4 linked regions of the Homo sapiens genome follow. The protein of the gene in region 1 interacts with the protein of each later gene in a pairwise test. Each region holds a gene or a part of one and is shown in the gene's direction. Other genes may lie near its edges.

The links.
Region 2: the proteins of SGTA (region 1) and NRSN2 interact in binary tests that used the Homo sapiens proteins (3 or more experiments, as listed by UniProt).
Region 3: the proteins of SGTA (region 1) and NAXD interact in binary tests that used the Homo sapiens proteins (3 or more experiments, as listed by UniProt).
Region 4: the proteins of SGTA (region 1) and ERP29 interact in binary tests that used the Homo sapiens proteins (3 or more experiments, as listed by UniProt).

The regions. Positions count from the first base shown.
Region 1 is NC_000019.10:2,759,274-2,762,773, reverse strand, and holds part of SGTA (small glutamine-rich tetratricopeptide repeat-containing protein alpha), read left to right. Parts: intron 1-129; coding exon 130-268; intron 269-1,251; coding exon 1,252-1,314; intron 1,315-3,479; coding exon 3,480-3,500. UniProt on the Homo sapiens protein: Co-chaperone that binds misfolded and hydrophobic patches-containing client proteins in the cytosol. Mediates their targeting to the endoplasmic reticulum but also regulates their sorting to the proteasome when targeting fails.
Region 2 is NC_000020.11:345,629-349,910, forward strand, and holds the start of NRSN2 (neurensin-2), read left to right. Parts: upstream 1-1,482; 5' UTR 1,483-1,514; intron 1,515-1,790; coding exon of another isoform or gene 1,791-2,386; exon of another isoform or gene 2,387-2,435; intron 2,436-2,471; coding exon of another isoform or gene 2,472-2,757; intron 2,758-3,044; coding exon of another isoform or gene 3,045-3,062; intron 3,063-3,607; exon of another isoform or gene 3,608-3,620; 5' UTR 3,621-3,735; intron 3,736-3,987; exon of another isoform or gene 3,988-4,009; 5' UTR 4,010-4,015; coding exon 4,016-4,204; intron 4,205-4,282. Other genes in the region: serine/arginine repetitive matrix protein 2-like, read right to left, coding at 1,040-1,363, 1,791-2,386, 2,472-2,757, 3,045-3,062. UniProt on the Homo sapiens protein: May play a role in maintenance and/or transport of vesicles.
Region 3 is NC_000013.11:110,618,545-110,622,044, forward strand, and holds part of NAXD (ATP-dependent (S)-NAD(P)H-hydrate dehydratase), read left to right. Parts: intron 1-3,500. UniProt on the Homo sapiens protein: Catalyzes the dehydration of the S-form of NAD(P)HX at the expense of ATP, which is converted to ADP.
Region 4 is NC_000012.12:112,019,926-112,023,425, forward strand, and holds part of ERP29 (endoplasmic reticulum resident protein 29 isoform 1 precursor), read left to right. Parts: intron 1-650; exon of another isoform or gene 651-2,224; coding exon 2,225-2,727; 3' UTR 2,728-3,500. UniProt on the Homo sapiens protein: Does not seem to be a disulfide isomerase. Plays an important role in the processing of secretory proteins within the endoplasmic reticulum (ER), possibly by participating in the folding of proteins in the ER.

The DNA.
Region 1 (3,500 bases):
ACAGCGGGCAGGGGGTGGCACCATCCGAGGTGGTTTGGGGGTTGCCAGGACCGCCGGGGACGAGGGCTTTGGCGGGGCCTCCTGGAGCTGGGCAGATGGGAACAGTCCATCCCCGGTGCTCTCCTCCAGCCTGGCGCTCTCCAGCCTCAACAAGCACGTGGAGGCCGTGGCTTACTACAAGAAGGCTCTGGAGCTGGACCCCGACAACGAGACATACAAGTCCAACCTCAAGATAGCGGAGCTGAAGCTGCGGGAGGCCCCCAGCCCCGTGAGTGCAGCGGGGGCGAGTGGCTCCAGAACGCCGAGCTGACTGTGTGGGTGGGGGACAGGTCCTCGGGCGCACCAGTGGCTCTAGGCTTAACCTGGGTGTCGTGAGGGTCCGGGGTTTGTTTCAGTTGGTGGTGAGATGCACAGGCGTGGAAGTGAGTGTCGTGAGAAGGTTCATGCCCCCAGACCCCTGGAAGCAGGAGGCCGGCCGCAGGGCTGCCCGCGGAGGCTGAGGGAGGGGCACAGAAAGGACCCTCGATGTGGGTTTTGTGGCGAGGCCGGGTGAGGAGGCTTCGGGTTGGCTGGTTGGAGCCATTTCATTAGACCCAGGCCTGGGGGCTGCCCCTGGTTGCCTGGTCCCTGGCCTGGGGGTGAGTGGGGCAGGTGGACTGTGGCCCTGGGGTGATGGGGGAGGTGCTGAGGGTGTGGGTTCTGGGTTAGTTTGTTTGTATTTCAAAGGTGCGTTTCTGGGTGAGTCATTTGCTTTCTCTGGGAATTGGCTACTCCAGGAGGGGGCGGCTCTGCCAGGCCAGCAAGGCCCCAAGGTGTCAAAGCGGCAGAATACAGGAAATCAACACGGGATGATAGACTGTGCCGTCCCCGGGCGGTCGCGCTGTACGGGGAATAAACACGGGATGATAGACTGTGCCGTCCCCGGGCGGTCGCGCTGTGCGGGGAATAAACACGGGATGATAGACTGTGCCGTCCCCGGGCGGTCGCGCTGTGCGGGGAATAAACACGGGATGATAGACTGTGCCGTCCCCGGGCGGTCGCGCTGTGCGGGGAATAAACACGGGATGACAGACTGTGCCGTCCCCGGGCGGTTGCGATGTGCTTCGTGCTGCCTGCCTCAAAGCACCCTCTGGCCGCAGGGTTGATAGAATGTCTGAGCCCCGTGGGGGGCCGTTGTTTCTGAGTTCCAGGGGGTTATTCACCGTGGCCTCTGGTCCAGGCCCCACTAACCAGGGCTGTTCTCATCCTCAGACGGGAGGCGTGGGCAGCTTCGACATCGCCGGCCTGCTGAACAACCCTGGCTTCATGAGCATGGTAACGGCCCGCCCCTCCTCCCTGTCCATGGTGTCTGCGCCACCCCCCAGGCCCGCATCTGCTGTGTCCGCTACTGGCCAGGGCTTCCTTGCCTTGGCACTGCTGGCTTCTGGAACCAGATGGGTCTTGTCTGTGGGGTCGTCCTGGGCACCGCAGGGCGCTGGCAGCACCCCTGGCCTCACCCGCCCCATGTCAGGAGCACCCCCACCCTCTGCTTCGACAATCAAAAGTGTCCCCAATGTTGATGTCCCAAGCAAGACCCATCAGTAGTGAGCACCAAAAGCTGGCTCTCCTGGCTGAGCCCAGGGAGGTCACACCCCCACCCCACCCTGGCGTGGGCTCCTCCTCGCAGTGCAGAGACACTGATCACAACACAGCAGCGTCTGCCTCCTAAGGTTCAGGCAAGGGAAGCAGAGCGCCGGGTGCGCCGGGCGCAGGTGGACCTCCCGATGCCCGGGCACTCATGCTTCCAAAGGGACGGCCTTTGGCAGGGAGTTCCTTGACTGGGATCCTCGGAGAGCCATCCCCCACACACACATGTTCATTTCCTGGGAGGTCTGTGTGCCCTGGGACCACTCTTCAGGCTCCCACAGCCTCAGGGTACAGGGACTCGCCTAAGGCTGTCGGGGAGAAAAGCCCTCAGTCTCACTGTCAGTCAGAAAAATGAGCCAGCTGGGCCAGGAGCCCTGCCCGGGTCGTGCCATTCAGCAGAGGCCACACCTCTTACTGTAGCCCTCGTCCGCTGGCCAAGCTGCCAGGGGAATATGTTCTCCCTCACCATGGGATGGAGGGTGACTGGGCCCCAGTCTTTCAAGGGGCCTCTCAGCTTGGCCATGTCACAGACGCCTTTTCCCTTCAGACATCTGGGGTTGGCAGAATAAGGCCCGCCGCTGGGTTTTGTTAATAAAGTTTTTTTTGGTTTTTTTTTTTTTTTTTTTTTTTGAGATGGAGTCTCGCTCTGTCGCCCAGGTTGGAGTGCAGTGGTGTGATCTCAGCTCACTGCAACCTCCGCCTCCCAGGTTCAAGCGATTCTCCTGCGTCAGCCTCCCGAGTAGCTGGGATTACAGGTGCCCACCACCATGCCTGGCTAATTTTGGTATTTTTTAATAGAAATGGGGTTTCACCATGTTTGCCAGGCTGGTCTCGAACTCCTGACCTTGTGATCCACCCGCCTCGGCCCCCCAAAGTGCTGGGATTACAGGTGTGAGCCACTACACCTGACCAATAAAGTTTTATTGGCACACAGCCATGCCCATTCATACACCTAGTGTCACTGGTGGCTTTCATGATACGGCGGCAGAGCTGAGTAGTTGCGTCAGGCACCCGTGTCTGAAAAGGCTGAGAGTATTTACACACTGGCCCTTTACACAGAGAGTTTGCCACACCTCTGAGCCACCTCCTTTCAACAGGTCCAAAGGAATAATCCCAAGTGGAAAGTTAACATGAGAAAGTGCCCAGTATAGTGCTATTTATTTATTTATTTATTTTTACTTCTTTTTTGAGACAGAGTCTCACTCTGTCACCCAGGCTGGAGTGCAGCGGTGTGATCTCGGCTCACTGCAACCTCCCCCTCCCAGGTTCAGGCGATTCTTGTGCCTCAGTTTCCCAAGTAGCTGGGACTACAGGCATGCACCACCACACCTGGCTAATTTCATATTTTTAGTAGAGACGGGGTTTCACCATGTTGGTTAGGCTGGTCTCGAACTCCTGACCTCAAGCGATCTGCCTGCCTCGGCCTCCTAAAGTGCTGGGATTCCAGGCGTGAACCACCGCGCCCAGCCACAGTGCTATTTATTGATAGAGCAAAACTGGAACCAAATATGCTAAATGAAATATGCTAAAGCAGACAGCAGCTAAAATAAAGAACCAAAACGCCTCCACACAGCAAAACCGCAGCAGCCAGTGAGAGAGCGCTGTGGCGCTGCGAGATCGCTCCTGAAGCAGGAACCCAAAACAGGATTTAAGTCACAATGTGGAGGTCACAGCTCGTGGGTGGGGGGGCGAAAATGTAGGGAAAAGGGTATGAAAGACCGAATGCCCGGCTCTTACTGTTGGTTGGCGTGCTGGAGTCCAGAACCAAGGCTGGTTAAGATGGAAAGTGTCTGATGAAAGAGAATGATGCGCTGGGAGCTTTGTCTTCCTGACAAATTTGTTCTGTTCTTCAGGCTTCGAACCTAATGAACAAT
Region 2 (4,282 bases), on another chromosome or scaffold:
CCATCACACACACACACATACACACACACACACACACTTAAATGAGTAAGTAAATAGAACATACAAAACGCTTAAACACTTTGCACATAGTGAGCATAATAAGTTTGCTACTATTATTAGACTGTCTTCAGTAAATATTTACTGGGCTGCCTACTCAGTGCCAAGCACTATGGGAGGCTCACAGATACAACACGAACAAGAAATATGTGGCCTTGGCCAGACGCGGTGGCTCACGCTTACAATCCCAGCACTTTGGGAGGCCGAGGCAGGTGGATCACTTGAGCTCAGGAGTTCAAGACCAGCCTGGGCATCATGGCAAAACCCTGTCTCTATTAAAAATACAAAAAATTAGCTAGGCATGGTAGTGCGTGCCTGTAGTCCCAGCTCCTCAGGCGACTGAGGTGGGAGGATCACCTGAGCCTTGGGAGATCGAGGCTGCAGTGAGCCGTGATCATGCCACCGCACTCCAGCCTGGACAACAGAGTGAGACGCTGTCTCAAAAAAATAAAAATTAAAAAAAAAGAAAAAGAAAAACTAAAAAGGAAGATGTGGCCCTATCTTGCCGAGCTCATTCTTCTGTGTGTCCCCAGCCCCTAGCACAAGGAGAAACAGAATAGATGCTCAAGACACAAAGGCATGTCTGTGCAAGGGTGCTTGATGACGGTTGGAGGGGCACAATGACTTTCCCAAGATCACACAGCAAATGTGGGACAAAATCAAGGCTGACAGCTCATGACAGGGTGGGAGGCAGATGCAGCTGCCTGGCACAGGCTGGCTCTCCAGGGAGATGGGCAGTGGGCACGCATTGCCCAGGGCAGAACTGGGGCTAGGGGAGGAAACAACAAGGGAGGCTGTCATTAGCTCCTTCCAAAGTGGAGGTCACTTCTCTCCCAACCCCGAGTCCTCCACCCAAACTCCCTTCTCAAGGTACAAGGGCTGATCCCGTACCAGGGATGGGTAGGGACTCAAAGAGGAAAAGAGGATGAAAAGAGGATGGGGACTGAGTGAGATGTGAGGACTCCAGAGGGATTAGCGGCTCTCAAGGCAAGTGGGAGGGGACTTCCCGGTAGGAGCCCGGAGACAGATGGGAGCCTGTGAAGAGGGCGGGGGCCCGGCGAGGAGAAGCGGTTTCTACGCTGGGGTGGGGCTCCATGAGGGGGATGGAGACCTGGAAAAGGGACTGACGGTGCAGCGAGGAGAGGAAGGCTCGGTTAAGGGATGGGTCTTCCACGGGAGGGGTGGGGAACTGCGGGAGTGACGGCAGCTTCGGTGAGGAGTCTGAGGGGCTGCGTGAGGGGCTGGGGCCCAGGGAGTCCGAGGGGTCTCTGTGAGGGCGCTGGGGTGTCCGAGCGAGCAGGGAACTCTGGAAGGGGACAGGAGCCGGGGGAGCTGCAGGCGGCCGCCGTCTGCAGAGCCAGGCCCTGAGGCGGGCCGGCGCCCCCTCCCCCGCCCCGAACTGCGGCGCAGGCGCGAACCGGACCCGCCTTTGCTCGGCGGAGACAGCAGGCAGAGAGGTGAGCTTAGCCCTGCCCCACGCGCGGCCAGGCCCCAGCCCCAGCCCCTGGAGAACCCCCGCGCTCTGCCCGCATCCTCAGCCCGGGCCGTGTCCCGCCAGGGCCGGGACCTTTGCGCCTGAGCCTCGGCTTTGGGAGGTGGGGGTCCCAGGGAAGCAGCAGGGGCGGGAGACAGAAACAGCCCCATCGCCCCTCGACGCCTCAGGGTTGATAGGCTGGGTAGAGGCTTCAAAGGACACCCCCACCCCCGCCAACACTTCAAAAACCCATTCCTACCCCTCTCTGCCTCAGTTTCTCTCTAGGGAAAAGGACGCAGTTGGTGTGGAGCAGGGCATCGGTGGTCCTGTCAGGAAGAGTGGCGCGGGTGCCGGTGGGGAAGGGAGGCGGGAAATGGCCTGATTTCCCCGGCCGACACCCCCTACCCATCCCCCCCGGGAGGGCGCCCCTTCTCCCCCGCCCGGGCAGCGCTGGACGCTGTAGTGGGCGAGTCTGAGGGTCTGGGAAGGACACAACTGAATGAGGCTGTGCAGAGGCGACAGATTCCGTCCATCTTCGGGCCCTGGCTTCCGTCACTTCCGCCCGTGCCTGCCGCCCCTCGCCTCCTCCCTCCGCCGCAGTCTCCCCACGTCGGACAGCGCAGCCCCCTCCGCCTCCCGCTCCCCTCCCACCGAGCTCCTCCCGGCTCCCGGGCTGGGGACGCCTCCCTAGCGGTTCCCATGGCAACCCTCGTCCCGGGTGCCTGCGCCCCGCCCCCCGCCCGCCAGACCTACTCCGTGCAGCCCTGAAACGCCAGGCGGAGGGGCCAGGCCGAGCGGGAGGCAGCGTCAAGGTCACCTTCCCTCTCCAGTAGCAGCAGGACTGAGTGATTCCATCTATTTGGAGTCGCGGAAGCGGTGAATTGGAGGGGAGGAGCTGACCCAGGTCAACAGCCCCGAAGCCCCCTCCACACCTCCTCACCTGTGGCCTTGAACAGTGGTCTCCGCACGGAGGCTCCTACCGTCCCCCAGGCCCCATTTCTTCTCCCCACCCGGGCCTCCCCAGCGCCTCGCCGGGGCGGGTACCGCGCTGGCCGCACCCTCCGCACAGCCCGCCCCGCCCGCCTCCTCCGGCGAGCCCTCCTCTCCAGACCTCTCGCCCTCCTCCTCCGACGGTCCTTCGCTTTCAGTCTCTGCCTTTTCCCGTTCTCTGTCGTGGCTTTTGTTGTTGTTGTTTTTCCTCCTTTCCTTCCCCGCTCTTCTTTTCCCTGAATTGTAAGTGAGGAGGGTGTACAGCCACTATTTATGGACAGGCTTTCTTGACAGCAATCTTGTGTGCCGTGTGACTCCAAGCAGAACCTCCAACCGTGTGTGTGTGTGTGTGTGTGTGTGTGTGTGTGTGTGTGTGTGTCGTACCTATCTGGGTATGTCTCTGTATGCTTTGTGAGTATGTCTGTGTGTTTCTCTGTGCTGTTTCGGTGAGTTTCTCTATGCAGGGATTTGAGGACCACATCTGATTGGAAGTGAGGGGCAGCTGTCAGGACCTTTATCTTACCCTTTGGAACAAGCACATTGTTTCATTTTGCAGGAGGCTGCTAATTAAGGCTGAGGGCCATCATGGAGACTGGGGTAGAAGCCCAGTCCTCCCCCAACACCTCCTGGCTTTGGTTCGGGCCAAACCTGTATATGGATATACAAGTACCTTCCATTCCCAAGATCCGTGTCCACTTTTGTGGAAAAAAAAAAAAAGGTTATTTGATAGGTTTCTCTGGAAATCTAACAGCCCTTAAGCCTAAGAGTCTTTAATCCTGAGGGACCCTGACTTTCACTTCCAATGGAGTCAAAATTCATTGGAATCTGGAGGCTTTCAGGGGCAGTCCTGGGGAGGACCTTTTTATAGCCTTGCAGCTTGGGAACTCCAGCCCAAGTGTCAGCCATGACAATTACCCCCAGGAGGGGGTCTGAAGGGGAGCGGAGGGTGAGGCTCTCTCATTCCAGATATGGAGACTAAAAAGTTCAAGATGGAAGTAATAGCAAAAAAATTACAGTACTAATCACAACAGCTACCATTTCTCAGCATTAGACACAGTAACTGTATGAAAGAAGTATGATTATTAGGTCTGTTTTACAGATGAGGAAACTGAGACCCAGAAAGGTGGAAGCACTTGTCTAAGGTCACGCCTCCAGGAAGCAGTGTGTCCACGACTCCAGTCCAAGTGGTCAGGCTCCAGAGCCCACAGTCCCAGGTACTGGGTGGCCTCCAGAGTAAACATGCACATTTATTGACACCTCCAATTGCCAGGCACTGGGCTAAGGCCTTCAGTGCATTGGCTCATTCGCAGTGTGCTTTGGGAAGGACAGGCTGGGATTCCAAAAGGCCAGACTGTGCTATGCGTGTAGGGTGTCTCGAGTGGGAGGAGAAGCGGGTGGGGCACAAAGATTTAGGGGGCTTATGAAGGTCACCATGAGCAGCTCCCACTAATCCCTCCCTCCGTCAGCTGCACCTTACCTGCTCCCCAGGGGTCCATGATGCCGAGCTGCAATCGTTCCTGCAGCTGCAGCCGCGGCCCCAGCGTGGAGGATGGCAAGTGGTATGGGGTCCGCTCCTACCTGCACCTCTTCTATGAGGACTGTGCAGGCACTGCTCTCAGCGACGACCCTGAGGGACCTCCGGTCCTGTGCCCCCGCCGGCCCTGGCCCTCACTGTGTTGGAAGGTAAGGCCAGATGAGCACCTCCCATGATTCCTCTGCCTTGATGGAGGAAATGAGTCTGAATTTGAGGCTCAGAGGAAA
Region 3 (3,500 bases), on another chromosome or scaffold:
GTTTTACACACTCAGAATTGATATTTTTGGCTTGTGGTAAATGGGACTTTAATGCTTAACCTGCTGTAGAAAAATCCGCCTTAGAAAGTGGCCCTTATTCGTATATTGTATTCGATGTTTGAGCCCCCTGATATCTTATCATTTTAACAAAGCTTACCTTGAAGTGCAGGAAAAATTGTATGTGTTCTTGTCATTATTTGAATAACAACAAAAATCAGTATTAGCTTTAAAGCCTGTAGGTTTTAAGCGTATCCTTGCCTGGACTAGCATATCTCCTCTTTCTCAACCAAAAAGATCAGAAAGGTGCTATCCCAGTACCAAAAGTACTGGGAGGACTTTCAGCAGAGTGTGACGCAGAAGGGAAGCTTTTCCGCTCTGGGGAGCAGATGCGGAGAGGACAAGCACTTGGAACACAGCATCCCTGGGAGCTCTGGTGCTGCAGTTGTGACCCCGAGGCGGCCCTGCTGTGCCCTCCTGGGAGTGCTGGGCGACACTGGTTGCAGAGGGGCATTGGTGCTCCCCTCCACCTGACAGGTGCTCCACCTGGACTCGTGGCTGCAGCTTAATTTTGTGTCAGATCCTTTCCGGTAATGTATAGGTTATTTCAACTATGAGGCAAAGTGCAAATGGGTAGTTCAGTGTGGGTTTATGGTATTTGCCCTTTTTGATATAAACATTAAATATTTCATACCTCACCTATAGTACTTTTTTTAAGACTTAAATCTGAAATTTAAGATACAGATGTTTGTAAGATATGAATCTTGGATATTGGGAGAAAGAAGCCTCCTGGAAAATATACAGTATTATCTGGTGGAACCATTTTATTCCTTTTCTTATTGTGAGAAATACACATTTATGAAGTATTACCATTTAGGAGTTGTTTTCATCAGGCAGGGTACATTGATATAAATGTTGATTTTTAACATCCGTAAGTTGAAGTCTGACTAAATTGTTTTTCTCTGTGATTTCATAAGTCACAATTTATATTTTATATGACCTTAAATATTTAATTTGAAGTACTGGTATATTTAAAGGTGCTAAAACTACACGCATGCATCTCTACTAGTGGTTCTTAACCCAGGCTCATTTTGCCCCATCCAGAAGACATTTGGGAGTGTTGAGATATTGCTGGTTGTCACCACTGGGTGCGTGTACATGCACTGCTGACTGGGTAGAAGCCGGGGATGCTGCTCAGCATCCTTCAGTGCATAGAACAGCTCCCCACGACAAAGACAGGATGCTGATCGATACCCATAAATGTCTTTTTTTTTGAGACAAGAGTCTCGCTGTGTCACCCAGGCTGGAGTGCAGTGGCATAATCTTGGCTCACTGCAGCCTCCACCTTCTGGGTTCAAACAGTTCTTCTGCCTCAGCCTCCCGAGTAGCTGGAATTACAGGCATGCACCACCGTGCCCAACTAATTTTTGTATTTTTAGTAGAGATGGGGTTTCACTATGTTGGCCAGGCTGGTCTCGAACTCCTGACCTCAAGTGATCCACCCACCTTGGCCTCCCAAAGTGCTGAGATTACAGCGGGGAGCCACTGCGCCTGGCCCCATAAATGTCTCTTCTAGACAAGTGTATTGTTTTAAAACCATAATTTAGCCCTCCTGGAGGGATTTCAAGGATGGGTGCATTGGTCCCCTGCAGGTAGCTCAGCAAGCTTCATTGTGTCTCTCCTTGGCCCACAGTTTATAGTGATTCTGTGCCGGGTCTTGTGTGTTGGTCTGGAAGAAGGTGAAAAGATTTGGGGTTGGGCTGAGCGCGGTGGCTCACACCTGTAATCCTAGCACTTTGGGAGGCCGAGGTGGGCAGATCACAAGGTCAGGAGATCGAGACCACCCTGGCCAACATGGTGAAACCCCGTCTCTGCTAAAAATACAAAAATTAGCTGGGCGTGGTGGCATGCGCCTGTAGTCCCAGCTACTCAGGAGGCTGACGCAGGAGAATTGCTTGGACCAGGGGGTCGTAGGTTGCAGTGAGCCGAGATTGTACCACTGCACTCCAGCCTGGCGACAGAGTGAGACTCTGTCTCAAAAAAAAAAAAAAAAAAGAATTTGGGTTGATGGGGATTCATAGGATCTTTTTATCTTGGGGAATCCCAGCATCTGCTCTATCAGCTAAGGCAGTTACATCTACTCATAAAGAAAATTCCTTCAAAAGTTTTGTTGAGTAAAAAGTAAAACTGTAAGAGTTAAAAGACAAAGCTCTTTTGCTGTGAAACGCTCAGTGAGCTTTGGACTGCAGTCAGTGGAACTTGTGACACTGGTTTTTCTCTGCTGCTGAGATAATTGGAAGGATAAAAATATTGAGTGCCTTGTTTGAAAAAATACTGTTTATATTTGCAAAGATCCTTTCATTCTAGGGAGAATGTATGCTTTATTCATTGAGCTCTATAGAACATACCAGCATTTCTCTCATAGCCGAGCTGTTTTAAATATTAAGGTAAAATATATAACACAGGAAGCTCTTCAAGAAAGGCCAATTGAAGTGTAGCTGTTTAGAGACAACTCAAGATGATGAAAATACATTAAATGCCACTTTGAACCCAATTTAAGAGGTGTGCCATATTTAGAATGCCATTTCTAGGTTATTTAATTAATACCCAGTTGAGTGTTGGAATACAGTTGGGAGTAATATGATGAATCTGTCAGACTTCTGAGCACCCCAGCGGATTACAGGTGGGAGCTTGCTTTCCAGTTTGTGAGGAGAGAAAAGACCTAATAATCCTAAAGGGAAATTGAAATGAAGTGATAGTTTATTAAGTAATAATGCATTTTTTTACTTGATAAAACTTTCTGGAAAATTAAATGGTCTTCCAAAATTTCAGATACATTTCAAAAATAAACCTGATAGAAATAGCATATGTTGTCCTGGTGGGGTGGCTCATGCCTGTAATCCCAGCACTTTGGGAGGCTGAGGCGGGCAGATCACTTGAGGTAAGGAGTTGGAGACCAGCCTGGCCAACATGGTGAAACCCTGTCTCTACTAAGAATACAAAAATTAGCAGGGCAGGGTGGCAGGTGCCTGTAATCCCAGATACTCCGGAGGCTGAGGCAGGAGAATCGCTTGAACCCAGGAGGTGGAGGTTGCAGTGAGCAGGATCGTGCCACTGCACTCCAGCTTGGGTGACAGAGCTAGACTCTGTCTCAAATAAATAAATAAATAGCATGTGTTACTATATGTGTTAATTACATGTGTTCAGGCTGGGCATGGTGGTTCACGCCTGTAATCCCAGCACTTTGAGAGGCTGCAGCTGGCAGATCACTTGAGGTCAGGAGTTCTAGACCAGCATGGCCAACATGATGAAACCCTATCTCTACTGAAAATACAAAAATTAGCCAGGTGTGGTAGTAGACACCTATAATCCCAGCTGCTCAGGAGGCTGAGGCAGGAGAATTGCTTGAACCTGGGAGGCAGAGGTTGCAGTGAGCTGAGATCACGCCACTGCACTCCAGCCTGGGTGACAGAGTCAGAGTTCGTCTCAAAAAAGAAAAAAAA
Region 4 (3,500 bases), on another chromosome or scaffold:
AGAGAGGGAGGAAGCTAGAAATCGTTTCCCTACTTGGAACAGGAATACCCAGCATCTTTCCTTCTGAGCCACTCTCAAGGAGTGTAAGTAAACAGGTTCATGGTCTCTAAAGGAATCTGCTGCCCACAGTAGGCTTAACCTGAGCAGATTTTGGGACCATGGAATCTAAGCTCAGCTGTACAGGTGCCTGAAGGGAAGGGAACCCCTCTTCCTTCACATTCCACCCCTCTCTGACATTAAACTGTGAGAACTTTGAGCTCTCCTTGCAGGGAACACTGGGCAGAGGGGGTGCTATGTCCCCTAGGGGACAGCATAGTCAGTTCTTCTGTCTTCATTTCAGTTTATGTACCAAAACTGTTAGGTTTTGGTGTTAGCTCAAATGCACTGATGCCACCACTAATCCAAGGGCACCTCCCAACCACAGCGACAGCTTTAATAGTCACCAGCATTTAGTGGCTGACAGGGTAAAGATCTGCACCCCCATTGCATTTTAAATCTTCACTTGAACTCTGCCTGAGAAGCAAGATGTATTATCTCCATGTTATACTTCAGGAAAAAAAAAACTGAAGCTCAAAGATTAAAGGACTGTGGGTGATAGAGTGGCTCATCCAGAGCTCCACCTAAGTGTTTAGTCCCAGGCAGGGGCTTACTTATTTCACTTCCCTCCCAGCTTGGATGCCTCCATTCCGTAGTAAGCTGGGAACTTAGTAGAGCGTCTGGTCCTGGGTAGAGATAGCTGGCACACCTCTCCAGGACAGTCAGTCAGATTTGACTCAACTTCAGGTAACTCCCTTGGTGCTTTTATTAGAATAATAATAATAGTTAACATTTATCAGATGTTTACTGCGTGCCAGGCCGCTGTGCTGAGTGTTTTACATGTGTTTCATCTTTGCAAGAGCTCTGTGAAGGAAGTCCCATGTGGTACTATTACCTCCATTTTTTCAAATGAAGAAATGGATGCTTAGAGTAACTTGCTCAAGATTGTGGAATTGTTAAGTGGCAGAACTAGGTTTGGAACCCTAGGCATCCAGTACTACCACTACTAGTAGTTGGTCTTAGCCGTTTCTCGGCAAAGTGTAAGAAACCAGTTGTCACAGCATCAGTCCTTGGGGCTGCTACTGCTCGTTAGGAAGGATGTTGCAGATACTAACAGCAGCTACCACATATTAAGCATATAACCCTGCCAAGTATCACGCACATATTCCCTCATCCGGTCCTCCCAACAGCCCCCATGTGGCAGGGACTGTGTTCCTTCCCTACCACATGCTCCCCTTTCTCACCCAGCTCCAGCCAGACTGGTCTTTGTAATCCTGAAATTTCCTGAGCTTAGCCCTGCCTCAGAGCTTTTGCACTTGCAGTCCTTTCTGCCTGAGACACTCTTCCCAAATCTTCACGTAGCTTGCTCCAGGACATTCAGGTCCTTTAGCTGATGTCACCTTCACAGGGAGGCCTGCCTTGACCACCTGAAGTGGGCTTTCTTACCCACTTTGTCACATCGCGCTGTTTTGTTTTCCCTGTGGCATTCATCACCTGTGTTTATGTGTTTGTTATGTCTCTTCTCTCCCTTAGAAGAATATGAGCTTAATAGTCTTTTTTTTTTTTTTTTTTTTTTTTTTGAGACAAAGTCTCACTCTGTTGCCCAAGCTGGAGTGCGGTGGTGGGATCTCGGATCACTGCAACCTCCACCTCCTGGGTTCAAGCGATTCTTCTGCCTCAGCCTCTTGAGTAGCTGGGACTACAGGCACGCGCCACCATGCCCTGCTAATTTTTTTGTTATTTTTAGCAGAGACAGCGGTTTCACTATGTTGGCCAGGCTGGTCTTGAACTCCTGACCTCGTGATCTGTCCGCCTCGGCCTCCCAAAGTGCTGGGATTACAGGCATGAGCCACCGCACCCGTCCGAGCTTAATACTCTTAATCACAAGTAGACCCCCAGCACCTAGAACAGCATCTGACACATAGTGGGCATATAATAAATATTCAGAAGAATCTCCATTTTTTCAGATGAAGAACAGTTCAGAGAGTTTAAATGATTTGCCTAGTGCTGCATGGCTAGGAAGTGGCAGAGGAGGAATTCAAACACAGGTCTGTATGGTTGCTCCTCACTTTGAACCATTACACGGCCAAGAAAATTCTTCTTTCCCTCAGTTCAGCTAGGTCCCATAGCAATTTTCTGCCCTGAGTTCCTTATGGTCTTGCTTTTTGTGTCTGGTTTCTGCTCACAGATTATGGTGACAAGCTGAACATGGAGCTGAGTGAGAAATACAAGCTGGACAAAGAGAGCTACCCAGTCTTCTACCTCTTCCGGGATGGGGACTTTGAGAACCCAGTCCCATACACTGGGGCAGTTAAGGTTGGAGCCATCCAGCGCTGGCTGAAGGGGCAAGGGGTCTACCTAGGTATGCCTGGTTGCCTGCCTGTATACGACGCCCTGGCCGGGGAGTTCATCAGGGCCTCTGGTGTGGAGGCCCGCCAGGCCCTCTTGAAGCAGGGGCAAGATAACCTCTCAAGTGTGAAGGAGACTCAGAAGAAGTGGGCCGAGCAATACCTGAAGATCATGGGGAAGATCTTAGACCAAGGGGAGGACTTCCCAGCATCAGAGATGACACGGATCGCCAGGCTGATTGAGAAGAACAAGATGAGTGACGGGAAGAAGGAGGAGCTCCAGAAGAGCTTAAACATCCTGACTGCCTTCCAGAAGAAGGGGGCCGAGAAAGAGGAGCTGTAAAAAGGCTGTCTGTGATTTTCCAGGGTTTGGTGGGGGTAGGGAGGGGAGAGTTAACCTGCTGGCTGTGAGTCCCTTGTGGAATATAAGGGGGTAGTGGGAAAAGTGGTACTAACCCACGATTCTGAGCCCTGAGTATGCCTGGACATTGATGCTAACATGACCATGCTTGGGATGTCTCTAGCTGGTCTGGGGATAGCTGGAGCACTTACTCAGGTGGCTGGTGAAATGACACCTCAGAAGGAATGAGTGCTATAGAGAGGAGAGAGGAGTGTACTGCCCAGGTCTTTGACAGATGTAATTCTCATTCAATTAAAGTTTCAGTGTTTTGGTTAAGTGGACCTGAAGCCATTCTTTTTTCTTTTCAAATTATACTTTCGTCTATGACCTGCTTTCCTCTTTGAATCTAAGCTGGTATAGACTCCACTTTCCCAGGGTAACAAACTATCCTCATAACACTGTGGAAACTGGCATACCTTTGTTATTTTCCAGTGATATTCAGACTGACATGGATTGACTGTCAATGGTAAAGTTTGTCTATTTTCCAGTCCTTAAAACTCAATAGCAGTATTGATGAATATATTGAACCAACATTGATGGACCATGGTGTAATTATTTTCCATGCTTTGTGAGGTACACATAGCAAATTCTTAGTTTTACTGATATATTCTGTGACTTGGATTTACACAGCTAAATGATATAGTCCGATTTCAAAATTAAAAAATATTTTCCATCTAAATCACTATCACTAAATAAATACTAACTTCTAGAAAGCA